2 linked regions of the Homo sapiens genome follow. The main gene of each other region encodes a partner of the protein of the gene in region 2 in a complex. Each region holds a gene or a part of one and is shown on either strand. Other genes may lie near its edges. The genes, in order: BEND3 and ERCC6L. A codon is read from its position in the direction of its gene.

Region 1 (7,268 bases), on a different chromosome or scaffold from region 2:
ACATTCTCTAGTGAACCCATAGGCGGCTGGGAGTGGCCCGGGGTACCTTTCTATCAAGTTCTTTGAATAGTCAGTTGCTGTGGAGAGAGCAGACAGACCAGGTCTTTTGGGACAGCAGCGTGAGCCTAATCAGAGCTGCCAGAGGCCTGTGGGCCGGGGAGTCACACAGGACAAGCGGCAGGCCCAGAAATGGGAAGTACTTGGGCTTCCTGCAACCTGGAGGTTCAAATTCCAGCCAGCTGACTCCGGATTTTACCCTGCTAGATCAGAGATGTCCTCGCCACTGTGCTGAGGTGCCAGTCCAGGAAGACCTGGCCCCAGCAGCCCTGACCTCATGCCACTCAGGGGCAAATCCCCCTTACCCCTAAGAGCTGTTTCCAGATGCAAACTGAAGCAAACTCTCACTACCAGAAGATTCCCTTGAGAATGTGGGCCCCAGAACAGGAATGTGATTGGAACCTGAAACAATAGGGATGGTGGCTGTGTGGCCCCTGCCACACACAAAAGGTAAAGTGGAGAGAATATGCTCAGTCATTAACAAAACAAACTCAAGGATTTTAAAAATTTAACCAAGACCTAAACCTTACTTCAATCTTTTCACAATTGCCATATGTCTGATTTGATTTCAAGGAACTTCTCTGCTACAGGTGACATTGACTTCTAAAAATTAAACCTAGAAGAGGGGGACAGTAGTTAGTATTCATGTGGCACAGGCTTCATGTTCTAAGTGTTACATATGTCAACCCACACAGTCCCCACCAGCACTGCTTCTTGTGCAGATAGGGAACGGGGCGGGGGTGGGGTGATTTGTGCTGCCCAAGGGATGCAGCTGAGACCAGGGAGTAGGAAGGACTTCAGGAGACTCCCGGCATGAGAGCTTCATTCCAGCCTTCCAAGGAAGCTGGGACTGAGGAATGGGCCATGACCTCCCAGCTTTCTTTCCCTCTTCCTGCTAAGCTGTGAGCTGGGTGCAGGTGCATGAGCAAGTCAACAAGCCAGATGGGCCAGTCTGTGACCAAGGCAGGAATTAGTGCAGGTGACCCTCCAAAAAATGGAATTCTTTACTAAACTTTGGAGTCAGATGGAACTGCATGAAACCCTGGCTTTTAATCCAGTTTTTTCATTTTTTTTTTCCCCAGAGATGGGGGTCTTGCTCTGTTACCCAGGCAGAGTGCAGCAGTATGATCAGAGCTCACTGTAGCCTTGAACTCCTGGGCTCAGATGATTCTCCCATCTCAGCCTGTGAGTAGCTAGGACTATAGGTGCACGCCACCACACCCAGCTAATTTTTTATTTTTTGTAGAGACAGGGTCTCCAGGTGTTGCCCAAAATGGTCTCAAACTCCGGGCTTCCAGCAACCCTCCGGCCTCAGCCTCCCAAAGTGCTGGGATTTCAGATGCAAGCCACCACACCTGACCCTTAACCCAGCCCAGTTTTCAAAGAGGGCTTTTTTTTTTTTTTTTTTGAGACGGAGTCTCGCTCTGTCGCCCAGACTGGAGTGCAGTGGCACAATTTCGGCTCACTGCAACCTCTGCCTCCCGGGTTCAAGTGATACTCCTGCCCCAGCCTCCCAAGTATCTGGGATTACAGGCATGCACCACCACATCCGGCTAATTTTTGTATTTTTAGTAGAGACAGAGTTTCACCATGTTGGCCCAGCTGGTCTGGAACTCCTGACCTCAGCTGATCCACCCGCCTCGGCCTCCCAAAGTGCTGAGATTACAGGTATGAGCCACTGCACCCAGCCCAAAAAGGTTTTTAACCGAGTTAAAATATTTAGCATCTAACACCAGGCCAGCTGTTTACCTACCCATCCAAGCTGTATTCTGTAATAGGAGCTGGACACATCTACCTCACCTCAAAAAGTTTTTGTGAAAACTACAAAGGAGAAAGTGTCTGACACATAGCACTCAAAGTTACCTATTATAAAGCTTCTTTTTTTTTTTTTAAGGAAAAGATGTTTAAAGTGCATTTTATTTTTTTATTTTTTTGAGACAAAGTCTCATTCTGTCGCCCAGGCTGGAGTGCAGTGGCACAATCTTGGCTCACTGCAACCTTTGCCTCCTGGGTTCAAGCGATTCTCCTGCCTCAGCCTCCCAAGCAGCTGGGATTACAGGTGGGCACCACCATGCCTGATTAATTTCTGTATTTTCAGTAGAGACGGGGTTTTACCATGTTGGCCAGGATGGCCTTGAACTCCTGGCTTCAAAGTTCCACCTGCCTTGGCCTCCCAAAGTTCTGGGATTACAGGTGTGAGCCATCCCGCCCAGCCTAAAGTACATTTTAATAGTGAATTTTTAAGAACTGCAAATTAAATAAAATGGCTTAAAAGATTAAAAAGGTTTAGTAACTTTTCTTTCCAATGAAACATAGAAACTGGAGGGAGGGGGATGAAACCAAATAAAATGCTCTCCCTGAGGACAGGAGGAATGTTCCCATGCCATCCACTCTGGTGCCGCGGGTCTCTGGGTTCACAGGACCGGCTGGGAGCCTCAAGGGTCTCAGGACCCAGCCCCCTTGGCAGTGGCATCCTGCCCAAGGGACTTGCAGGACATGTTCGCAATTTGTTTTTATTTTTAGGCACATCTGCAAATGCAGTTTGAAAAATACCAGTCCTCACAAAACCAGGGCAATTTTCCCCAGAGTTTTTCTAAAGCTGTAATTGTAGCTGCCTTCCTTATTCAGTCAGAGCACAACCTCATCTTCCGCATGCAGCCAAGCACAGCCGCACAACCCTGCCCGCGCGCCTGTGATTTGGCGTCTTAATCTTTGGTCACTTGCGTCTTCTGAGTCTTGAGTAAATGTGCCATCTTCCTCAGCTAAGAAGTTCCACTTACGTTCTCCCCAACCTCGTGGAGGGCTACCTCCTCACATGGCTCACAGGAGACTCTGCGTATTAACCTTGGCATGCAGAAGCTGAGGCTCAAGGTGGAAGGAGGGACCGCACATTCCAGCATCCAGCCATGTGACTGACTGCACAACGGTGACTAATTTTCCTAGGAGGTATAAGCTGAGTTTCCGCTGCACTTCCCATTTTATCAAGTGTTTTATTTTGTGACCACACAAGCTGATTAGGGTTCGGGGCAGTTGGGTGTATACTGCACCCCCAATCCTAAGCAAGCCTCAGTCCTTCGCTCTGCTAGCTCCATGCTCAAACCAAAACAGCCCCTGACATACAAGAAAAGGCCAGTAAATGACTTATTCAATTGAGCAATCAATGCCCTGATACTGATGCAACTGTGTTTCACTAGTCAGAAATAACTGAAAATCAGACAAGAGGAGAGGTGGCCACAGGTAGAAAAAAAATTAAGAGGGTTGATTGATTGATTGATTTGAGATGGAGTCTCGCTCTGTTGCCCAGGATGGAGTGCAGTGGTGCGACCTCGGCTCTCTGCAACTCTGCATCCCGCGTTCAAGCAATTCTCCTGTCTCAGCCTCCCGAGTAGCTGGGACAACAGTCATGTGCCACCACACCTGGCTAATTTTTGTATTTTTCACTAGAGATGGGGTTTGGCCATGTTGGCCAGGCTGGTCTCGAACTCCTGGCCTCAAGAGATCCACCCGCCTCAGCCTCCTAAGGTGCTGGGATTACAGGTATGAGCCACCACATCCAGCCAAGAGGGCTGACTTTAAATACACGTTTCAACTTGGATTAAAAATTGGTGGGGGCGGGGGGCGGTCTGGGCGTGGTGGCTCATGCCTGTAATCCCATCACTTTGGGAGGCCGAGGTGGGAAGATCACCTGAGGTTGAGAGACCAGCCTGGCCAACATGACAAAACCCCGTCTCTACTAAAAATACAAAAATTAGCTGGGTATGGTGGCACGGGCCTGTAATCCCAGCTATTTAGGAGGCTGAGGCAAGAGAATCCTTGAACCTGGGAGATGGAGGGTCCAATGAGCTGAGATAGTGCCGTTGCACTCCAGCCTGGGTGACAGAGCAAGACTCTGTCTCAAAAAAAAAAAAAAAATCGAGGTGGGGCAGGCATAGTGGCTTACACCTGTAATCTCAGCCAAAGACAGGTTGGAACACTTGACTCCAGGAGTTTGAGACCAGCCTGGGCAATACAGTGAATCCCCATCTCTATAAAAAATACAAAAAAATTGCCGGCACGGTCGCTCACGCCTGTAGCCCCAGCACTTTGGGAGGCTGAGGCGGACGGATCACTTGCAGTCAGGAGTTCGAGACCAGCCTGGCAAACATGGAGAAACCGCGTCTCTACTAAAAATACAAAAATTAGCCAGGCGTAGTGGCGGACACCTGAAATCCCAGCTACTCAGGAGGCTGAGGCAGGAGAATTGCTTGAACCTGGGAGGCGGTGGTTGCAGTGAGCCGGGATCATGCCATTGCACTCCAGCCTGGGCAACAAGGGCAAAACTCCGTCTCAAAAAAATCAGCCAGGCATGGTGGCACAGGCCTGTAGTTCCAGCCACCTGGGAGGCTGAAGTGGGAGGATCGTTTGAGCCCAGGAGGTTGAAGCTGCAGTGAGCTGTGATCGTGCCACTGCACTCCATCCTGGGTGACAGAGTGAGACCCTGACTCAAAAAAAAAAAAAAAAAAGGAAGCTGGGCACAGTGGTGTGCACCCATAGTCCCAGCTACTCAAGAGGCTCAGGCGGAAGCATTGCTTGAGCCTAGGAGTTCAAGATCAACCTGGTCAACACAGCCAGACTCTGTCTTACAAAAACTGGAGGGAGAGCATGGTATCAGGTGACCTGCTGAGAAAACTTCAGCTCTAAAACAATAGTTTGTAAAAGTGGTTTTCATACAAAATTCACAGACTAACATGCCAAGCATTCACTGCCACTCTTAAAACAGCCCCTCTCCTGTTTAACACTCTGAGGGCTGATACTGGCATGGAGAGCTCTTAGTTTGACATGTGTGGGGAACTTGTGGCAGCTAATCCCAGAAACCACAAGAGCTCTGGGTTGAAACAATGATGTTGCAAGAAATACTGACGTATCAGAAGCAGAAGAAGAGCATTATCAAATTTGGAGAAGGAAAGAGACTGTCAGAGCAAGGTGATACAAAGCACCAAAAAAATCAGTTTTTAGCACATTTTTTTGTGTGTGACTTTCTTTTTCTTTTTGAGACAGAGTCTTGCTCTGTCACCCAGGCTGGAGTGCAGTGTGGCACGATCTTGGCTCACTGCAGCCTCCTCCTCCCAGGTTCAAGCGATTCTCCCGCTTCAGCCTCCCGAGTAGCTGGGATTACCCACCACCATACCTGGCTAATTTTTGTATTTTTAGTAGATACGAGGTTTCGCGATGTTGGCCAGGCTGGTCTGCAACTCCTGGCTTCAGGTGATCCACCCACCTCGGCCTCCCAAAATGCTGGGACTACAGGTGTGAGCCACTGCACCCAGTCATTTAAGTTTCATTTTAAAAATTTATCCCGGTCAGGCAGTGGCTCACACCTGCAATCCCAGCACTTTGGGAGGCCGACACAAGTAGATCACTTGAGCTCAGGAGTTCGAGACCAGCCTGGCCAACATGGTGAAACCCCGTATCTACTAAAAATATAAAAAATTAGCCAGGTGTGGTGGCGCATACTTGTAGGCCCAGCTACTTGAGAGGCTGAGGTGGGAGGATCGCTTGAGCCCGGGAGTCAGTGGTTGCAATGGGCCTAGACTGTGCCACTGCACTCCAGGTTGGGTGAAAGAGAAAGACCCTGTCTCAAAAATTCCCAGAGTAAAATTGACTCTCTAGGAGTGTATCATTCTATGAAAGATAACACATGTAGGCTAGGCGTGGTGGCTCACGCCTGTAATCTCAGCACTTCGGGAGGCCGAGGTGGGCAGATCACCTAAGGTCAGGAGTTTGAGACCAGCCTGGCCAACATGGTGAAACCCCGTCTCTACTAAAAATACAAAAATTAGCCGGGTATGGTAGTGCATGCCTGTGATCCCAGTTACTCGGGAGGGTGAGGCAGGAGAATCACTTGAACCCAGGAGGCGTAGGATGCACTGAGCCGAGATTGTGCCACTGCATTCTAGCCTGGGTGACAGAGTGAGACTGCATCTCAGAAAAAAAAAAAGAGAGAGATAACACATACACATCCCTATAAACACCCCTAAAAAGATACAGAATAGGTTTCCCATTCCAAAGAGTAATTCTACAATTAATTCCCCAAGCTTACCTTAGCCAATGATGGGAACAATACAATTAGGTTAGCAACCAAAACCTATCACTTAACACCAAAATTAAGCACCAGGCCAGGCGCGATGGCTTACACCTGTAATCCTAACACTTTGGGAGGCTGAGGCCGGTGGATCACTTGAGGTCAGGAGTTCAAGACCAACCTGGCCAATAAGGTGAAACCCCATCTCTACTAAAAATACAAAAATTAGATGGGTGTGGTGCCACGCACCTGTAATCCCAGTTACTTGGGAGGCTGAGGCAGGAGAATCACTTGAACCCAGGAGATGGATGTTGCAGTGGGCCGAGATCGCGCCACTGCACTCCAGCCTGGGCACCAGAGTGAGACTCCGTTTCAAAAAAAAAAAAAAAAAAAAAAAAATTAAGCACCAGGAAAAAAACACTACATCCCAGCCTCCCATATACAAACACCAAATCATTTTTGCTGGTTGGCTAGCGACCTTCATACTCTATGCTTCTACATTATACAATTTGAGGTCTTTAAACTTTTCATCATGGTGTCAATACAATTCATATAAACATGCTGTTTTCCTTCTCATTGTTTCCAGGGACTTTCTAGGCAGCGCTAAAAAGTAGCAGGTGAGACATTAATATAGGATATTACATTTTCACCTAATCAAACCTGTGTCAGGGCTCACTCCAATTTTTCTCTTTGTAATTATTGGACATTCTGCTATGCTTCTGCTCACACAGGGGTGCTTAGGAGCCAAGAAAGAACCCACAGGGAGAGGATGTAAAGAAAATGTGTCAATATGGCACCTGTTAATAGATTGTTGGGATGCTGACTGTCTCATCTGCCAGTTCCTAACCAGCCTATCGTCTTGCTGGGCATGGAGAAGGTAGGCGGAATCACATAAAACTTTCCCATTATATTAGTTCTTCAGCAAGAAGATGGCATCTCTGGTATCAACAACAACAAAAAAAAACGCTGGGCGTGGTGGTACACGTCTGTAATCCCAGCACTTTGGGAGGCCGAAGCTGGCGAATGACCTGAGGTCGGGAGTTCGAGACCAGCCTGACCAACATGCAGAAATCCCCTCTCTACTAAAAATACAAAACTAGCCGGGCATGGTGGCGCGCGCCTATAATCCCAGTTACTTGGGAGGCTGAGG
Region 2 (7,542 bases):
GTGAAAGAGAAAAAAAATAAGTTAAAGTTGTATACAAGGAAGCCTCCACAATTATTGACTCTGAACTTCAAACTATGTAAGGAGAGAAGTGAGAACCTGAGGGGTGTGCAACAGTGAAAAGATGGAATCAATGAACTATAGGTCCCAACAATATCAAACATTTGTTGGAATTGGTATTCTAGAGGGAGTAAGGTAGAAGATGGAGAGTAGAATGCTTGAACGGTGGTGTAATAATGTAAGTGTAATAAAAAGTCTGATTCTGCTGGGCATGGTGGCTCACACCTGTAATCCCAGTGCTTTGGCAGCCTGAGTTGGGAGGATCACTTGAGTCTAGGAGTTCAAGACCAGCCTGGGCAACACAGTGAGACTTCATCTCTACAAAAATCTTTTTTTTCTTTTTTTTCTGAGACGGAGTCTTGCTCTGTTGCCCAGGCTGGAGTGCAGTGGCGCCATCTCAGCTCGCTGCAACCTCCGCCTCCTGGGTTGAAGCAATTCTGCCTCAGCCTCCCAAGTAGCTGGGATTACAGGTGCCCGCCACCATATCTGACTAATTTTTGTATTTTTAGTAGAGACGGGGCTTCACCATGTTGTCCAGACTGGTCTTGAACTCCTGACCTCGTGATGCACCTGCCTCGCCCTCCCAAAGTGCTGGGATTACAGGCATGAGCCACTGCACCCAGCCTACAAAAATCTTTTAAAAATTAGCCGGGCTTCATGGCACACACCTCTGGTATATGTTTATATGTACAGTAAGTCCTCAGTTAACGTGGTCAGTAGGTTCTTGGCAACTGCAACTTTAAGCAAAATGACACACAGCAGGCCCTTGAATGACACTGGTTCATTCAATATCATTTTGCTGCAACACTGATGAGAAAAAAATTGGTTTTGCTACGTCATTTCACTTAAAGTCAGTTTCCAAGAACCTATGGACAATGTTAAGTGAGGACTTACTGTATACACACGCACACACATCTTTGCTCACTCATGTAAGTGTATCTGTAGAAGAAAATACTACAAGTCTTAGCTTCAAAAGTAAAACTATGTATCTTAACTTTTGAATTGACTCATATAGCTCATCACACACCAGCCTGAGAGAATATAAATAAATGCTTACTCACACTATTGACTTTATTAAAATCTGGCATGGTTTTCTTGAATGGCAATTTTAAATACACATTCCCTAAGACCCAGCAATCGGAATTCCAAAGTGTACACTCAGTTACGAAGTGCACAAAAATTCACACAAAGGCTGCCTATTACAACAAAAGTATAATGGCAAACAATTGGAAAAATCTAAATGAAAGGCCTGGCATGGTGGCCCACGTCTGTAATCTCAACACTTTGGGAGGCCGAGGCAGGAGGATTGCTTGAACTCAGGAGTTTGAGACCAGCCTGGGCAACATGGCGAGACCCTGTCTCTACTAAAAACACAAAAAAAATACTTTGGGAGGCCGAGGCGGGCGGATCACGAGGTCAGGAGATTGAGACCATCCCGGCTAACACGGTGAAACCCCGTCTCTACCAAAAATACAAAAAATTAGCCGGGTGTGTTAGCGGGCGCCTGTAGTCCCAGCTACTCGGGAGGCTGAGGCAGGAGAATGGCGTGAACCCGGAAGGCGGAGCTTGCTGTGAGCCCAGACCGCGCCACTGCACTCCAGCCTGGGTGACAGAGCGAGACTGTATCAAAAAAAGAAAAAAAAAAAATAGCTGGGTGTGGTGGTGTGCGCCTGTGGTCCCAGCTACTCCGGAAACAGGTGGGAGGATCGCATGAGCCCCGGGGGATGGAAGTTGCAGTGAGCTGAGTTAGAGATCGCGCCACTGCACTCCAGCCTGGGTGACAGAGCCAGACCCTGTCTCTAAAAATATATATAAAACAACAATAGTAAAATAATAAATTGGCTGGACATGGTGGCACCCACCTTAAGTCCCAGCTACTAGGGAGGCTGGGGCAGGAGGACTGCTTGAGCCCAGGAGTTCGAGGCTGCAGTGAACTATGATCAGGCCACTGAATTCCAGTCTGGGCGACACAGCAAGACCCTGTCTCAAAAAAAATTAAAGCAGTAAAATTCACAGAGACAGAATAATGGTTGCTAGGGGCTGAAGGGAGGGGGAAATGGGGAGTTTGTTTAATGGGAGTAGTTTCAGTTTTGCCACATGAGAAAAGTTCTGGAGATGACGGACGGCTGCACAACAATATGAATGTAGTCAACACTACTGAACTGTACATTTAAAAATGGTTAGGATGATAAACTTTATTTTTCATAAAACCCAGTTTCTGCACAAAAAGATAAAATTTATGTTATGTGTACTTTACCACAATTTAAGAAAAAATTTAAATTCTCATCCCAACATTACCACGCCCCCCACCCTTAGCCAACTGGTGAATGTTTACTCATTTTTCAACGCCTAGCTCAAATGTCTCCTCTTGCCACGCCATCCCTTAGCTGACCACCCTTGTAGTTGGCCATTCCCTCTTTTATGCCAACACTGTGCCCTGCACGTACATTATACCTCTTACAGCACTTATCAAACCTAGTAATTATTGCTTTACAGATCCGTTTCCACTACTAGATTACAAACAATTTGGGGGCGGGGACCTTGTTTTACTCATCTCTGTATCCCCTAGACTTAGGGCTTGATAAGCTGAAAAGAATCAAGAAGGGCTTGATTAATTAAGGCTCCTCTGGCTTTTAAGGAGACCATACTGGAGGGTCATTTGCCCAAAAGAAGAGGCATCGGGGTCTCCTCAGGTTTTAGAAATCTGGTCAAACATCCAGAGCTGACTCCCACACCCTACTGCGAGAAGAGCGCGAGCGCGCGTCTCAAAAGGCTCCGCCTCAACAGTTCGGGTCCCCAGGAGGATCCGGGGGCCACCCCACCTCCACCCTGGGCCAGGTCGGTTAGCTAGACCCGCCCAGCGGTCCAGACATACCTTAGGTAATGAGCAGCCTGCTCTGGGCTCAAGGCCTCGGCTTCCGGAAACCTTCGGGATGCCTCCATGACCCTCGGATTGGGTTCCAGTTACCCCGGCGGGAGTTTGGAGCTTGGAGCTTGGAGCTTGGAGCTTGGAGCTTAGAGTTTGGAGCTTGAATTTCGCTCACTCCCGCCCCGCGCATGCTCTGTGCGCCGTGGAGAGGGACACAGCCAACCGACGGCCTCGCGGCCGGCCAATCCGCGACCACGCGCTGCGACGCCTCCGCCTGAGCCCCGCCCATGACGGTGGGCGCCTGCGCCTACGCGCGCCGGGAAGCAGAAGGTGATCTCTGCCTTCGAGACACGGAGTGTGCTGCCTCAGTCTGTGATCCCTCGCGTTTCAATCCAATTCAAACCATGCTGCAGCCAATTCGTTCGCGCGTGCGTGTGCCATCATTGTGAGTGGAGGAGACTGCCCGATATGATCCCAGTCATTGCGGCGACCCCTGGAGATCTCCAACGCCTGCGTCCCCCAACCATACCCTGCCCCGCATCCACAGATATCTTCCCTTCCTTGATCGCCAGTACCTGGCACTGACCGTGCTTTGAATTCAAACACCCTGGGAGGCATAGTCCCTGTGATTTAAACTAACATTGAAGAAGCGACCAGACGCGGTGGTTCACGCCTGTAATCCCAGCACTTTGGGAGACCGGGGCGGGCGGATCACGTGAGGTCAGGAGTTCGAGACCAACCTGGCTAAAATGGTGACACCCCGTCTCTACTAAAAATACAAAAAATTAGCCGGGCGTGGTGGCGGGCGCCCGCAGTCCCAGCTACTCGGGTGGCTGAGGCACGAGAATCGCTTGGACCCAGGAGGTGGAGGTTGCAGTGAGCCGGGATTGCACCACTGCACTCCAGCCTGGGTGGCAAAGCGAGACTCCATCTCAAAAAAAAAAAAAAAAAAAAAAAAGGCTGGGTGCAGTGCCTCACGCCTGTTATCCTAGCCTTTTGGGAGGCTAAGGTGGGAGGATCACTTGCACTTAGGAGTTCGAGACCAGCCTGGGCAACATGGTGAGACTCCCGTCTCTTTAAAAAAAATTTTTTTCTTCTCCACAGGGCGTTATGCTGTATTTATTTTCTTAAAAAGAGAGAGAGAAAGAGAGAAGGGTCTTCAAGAATCTCAAACCCTGGAGGTGGAGGCTGCAGTGAGCCAAGATCATGCCACTGCACTCCAGCCTGGGTGACAGAGAAAGACTCCATCTCAAAAAAAAAAAAAAAATTAAAGTTCTTATTTAAGAAATAAGTAACTAGGTTCACATACTTGGTATAATAAAAGGAAGACAAAAATAATTTAAAAAAAAAGAAGTAGTGCTGTGGTCATCATTTCTTCAGAAGCACCAACTAAGATACAGTCATTTTCAAATGCAGAGCCTAAAAAGAAGGCAGAGCCTAGAGCTTAAGGAAATGTGATTGAGTTTAAGTGGCTTGCTTGGGTGACACTAAATAGGAGGTTGTGGGCCAACAAAAATTGTCCTTGTTCATATACTGTTAAGAACACAGACATGACTCCTCAAGACACTAATTTAGCATTCAGTATTGGAAAACTCACCTATTGGCCCAGTCATACATCATATGTCCAGAGAATTTTAAGCTTTTCATAAAATTTATAGACCGTTATGAGTTAAAAGGAATGTTGGAGGCCGGGTTCAGTGGCTCACTGAACCTGTAATCCCAGCACTTTGGGAGGCCGAGGCGGGCGGATCACCTGAGGTCAGGAGTTCAAGACCAGCCTGGCCAAATGGTGAAACCCCCGTCTCTACAAAAATTAGCTGGGCATGGTGGCGGGTGCCTGTAATCCCAGCTTCTCGGGAGGCTGGGGTGGAAGAATCGCTTGAACCCAGGAGGCAGACGTTGCAGTGAGCTGAGATCGTGCCATTGCACTCCAGCCTGGGCGACAGAGCAAGACTCCATCTCAAAAAAAAGAAAAGGGTTGGGGGGAGGTGGGGGATCTTGGAGAACATGGGCTATTTTCCTGGTTTGTATGACTTTAAGGCCTTTATTAAGAGGCCTTTTAGTATACTATTATCCACATTTTTCAGATGTGGAAACAGGCTCAGAGAGATAAATTGACTTCATCTAAGCTTCCTGAGCTAGGAAGCAGCAGAGCCAGAATTCAATACTAGGTCCATATGGACACAAATCTGTGCCGTTTCGCTGTGTCACACTGGAAAGAAGAGGGCAGTGGCGGGAAATGAGGTTGATGAGGCAGTTGAAGGCCAGGTTATGAAGGAACTTGTTTACTCTGCTAAAGTGTTTGAATCACATCTTTTCCTGGAGGCAAGCTTGGATTGGGCTGTGCTATGGTCTGAATGTCCTTCAAAATTCTTGTGTTGAAACTTAATCCCCACCATGGTGGCATTGAGAGGCGGGGCCTTTTAGCAAGTAATGTCATGAGGGATCCTACTTCATGAATAAATTAGTGCCTTATGAAAGGGCTGGAGGGAGCTAGTTTAGGCCCTTTTTGCTCTTCTGCTTTCCTACCATGTAAGGACACACTATTCCTTCCCCTCCAGAGGATGCAGCAACAAGGCACCATCTTGGAAGCAGAGAGCAGCCCTCACCAGATACCAATCCTGCTGGCACCTTCATCTTGGACTCTTCAGCCTCCAGAACCATAATAAATACATTTCTATTGTTTATAAATTATGAGTTTGATGGCCAGGTGAGGAGGCTCACGCCTGTAATCCCGCCCTTTGGGAGGCTGAGGCGGGCAGATCATCTGAGGTCGGGAGTTCGAGACCAGCCTGACGGAGAAACCCTGTCTCTACTAAAAATGCAAAATTAGCCGGGCATGGTGGCACATGCCTGTAATCCCAGCTACTTGGGAGGCTGAGGCAGGAGAATCACTTGAACCTGGGAGGCGGAGGTTGTGGTGAGCCAAGATCACGCCATTGGCACTCCAGCCTGGGCAACAAGAGCGAAACTCCGTCTCAAAAAAAAAAAATATGAGTTTGAGTCTATGGCATTTTATTATAGCAGCACAAAGGAGCTAAGGATGAGTTGAGAGTCCAGGCGCCCTGGATACCCAAAGGATGAGTAGGATGAGAAGAGCAGAATAGGGGAGAAGATGTAGGAGAGAATTCTGCAGAAAGGAAAAGAGAGATGAGAGCACAAAAATCTTCATCTTGAGTCTGGGGAAGGCCATGTCTGGTTGTGCTTTGGCTCAGGGTCCACCATCATCGCTCATATCCGGGGAATTGTTGAGAACTGAAGATGAAGCAAAGCAGGCCCCTGGTGGTTGTTGTAGGCATGCCCCATTGTGGGCTGTGAAGAAAAGCTAAAGAGAACTCCCTCAGGAACCCCGGCTACCTCCTCTCTGCTTCCCAGCTGGCAGTGATGCCTAAAGGCCCTGATCACCGGGAAGGAAGGACCAACACTCGGCTTGCCTGCCCTTTGGCTATTGGATTTTCTAAGCCCCATTTTCACACAGCTGTAGGGCTCCTCCTTTAAACTCCCCAGCTCTGGCTGCTCCTCCCCTCCCCTTCGGTCCTGTAGTCTGCTTCCCTTGGGCCCTTCTTGGTGCCTTCTGGAGTCCCAGGTCTCAACCCAGGGCTCTGATGACCCAGGAAACTCCCCAGCCCAGGCTCCTAGTCCTCCTTTATAAATGGTCACCCAGGCTCACAGCCTGAAAATAAGAGAGAGATTGGGAGGATTTTGAGTGGGTAAATGGAGAGAATCAAAGAGAGTCAAAATAATAGTTACTACTATATCCCTCTTATGTGACAGGCCCCATTCAAAACACTTTACATCGATTAATTATCTGCTGTTCCTCATTATGCATCTACCCCAATCAAGGGCTCCCATTCCCCCAGCGTCTCTCAAGGGAATGGGGTTTATAAAGCTCTCCCAGCTGGGCTCAGTGGCTCACGCCTGTAATCCCAGCACTTGGGGAGGCCGAGGCGGGCGGATCACAAGGTCAGGAGTTCGAGACCAGCCTGACCAACATGGTGAAACCCCGTTTCTACTAAAAATACAAAAATTAGCGGGTGTGATGGCACGTACCTGTAATCCCAGCTACTTGGGAGGCTGAGGCAGGAGAATTGCTTGAACCCAGGAGGCGGAGGTTGCAGTGAGCCAAGATCTCACTACTGCACTCCAGTCTGGGCGACAGAGGGTGACTCCATCTCAAAAAGAAAAGAAAAGAAAAGGAAAAAGCTCTTCCTAGGCTGGGTGCGGTGGCTTACATCTGTAATGCCAGCACTTTGGGAGGTCGAGGTGGGTGGAGTTCAAGACCAGCCTGGCCAACATGGTGAAACCCCATCTCTACTAAAATACAAAAATTAGCCGGCCATGATGGTAGGTGCCTGTAATCTCAGCTACTCGAGAGGCTGAGGCAGGAGAATGGCTTGAAGCCAGGAGGCGGAGGTTGCAGTGAGCCAAGATCATGCCATTGCACTCCAGCCTCTACAAGAGCAAAATTCTGTCTCAGAAAAAAATAAACAAAAAAAGCTCTCCCTAATTATTGTTAATTTTAAAAGGGTGATAATGGTATTGCTGTTTTTTTTTTTAAGGTCCTCATCTGTTAGAAATACAAGTTGGAGTATTTTCAGACAAAATGATATGACATC

The links.
Region 1: the proteins of ERCC6L (region 2) and BEND3 are in contact, whole or in part, in a crystal structure (PDB 5JNO), measured with the Homo sapiens proteins. Residues at the interface, in NP_060139.2 of Homo sapiens: Ala10 (codon at 2,973), Glu11 (codon at 2,970), Ala12 (codon at 2,967), Leu13 (codon at 2,964), Ser14 (codon at 2,961), Pro15 (codon at 2,958), Glu16 (codon at 2,955), Ala18 (codon at 2,949), Ala19 (codon at 2,946), Tyr21 (codon at 2,940), Leu22 (codon at 2,937), Arg23, Lys26, Phe51, Pro52, Asn53, Glu54, Lys55; in NP_001073919.1 of Homo sapiens: Glu252, Gln255, Ile256, Gln259, Leu261, Asp265, Arg269, Val272, Gln273, Pro276, Phe279, Ser280, Phe335, Arg338, Phe339, Gln342, Glu346.

Annotation. Positions count from the first base shown.
Region 1 is NC_000006.12:107,105,490-107,112,757, forward strand, and holds part of BEND3 (BEN domain-containing protein 3), read right to left. Parts: intron 674-7,268; exon of another isoform or gene 588-673; intron 1-587. UniProt on the Homo sapiens protein: Transcriptional repressor which associates with the NoRC (nucleolar remodeling complex) complex and plays a key role in repressing rDNA transcription.
Region 2 is NC_000023.11:72,235,912-72,243,453, forward strand, and holds the start of ERCC6L (DNA excision repair protein ERCC-6-like), read right to left. Parts: upstream 3,117-7,542; 5' UTR 3,001-3,116; coding exon 2,933-3,000; intron 2,038-2,932; exon of another isoform or gene 1,920-2,037; intron 1-1,919. UniProt on the Homo sapiens protein: DNA helicase that acts as a tension sensor that associates with catenated DNA which is stretched under tension until it is resolved during anaphase. Functions as ATP-dependent DNA translocase. Can promote Holliday junction branch migration (in vitro).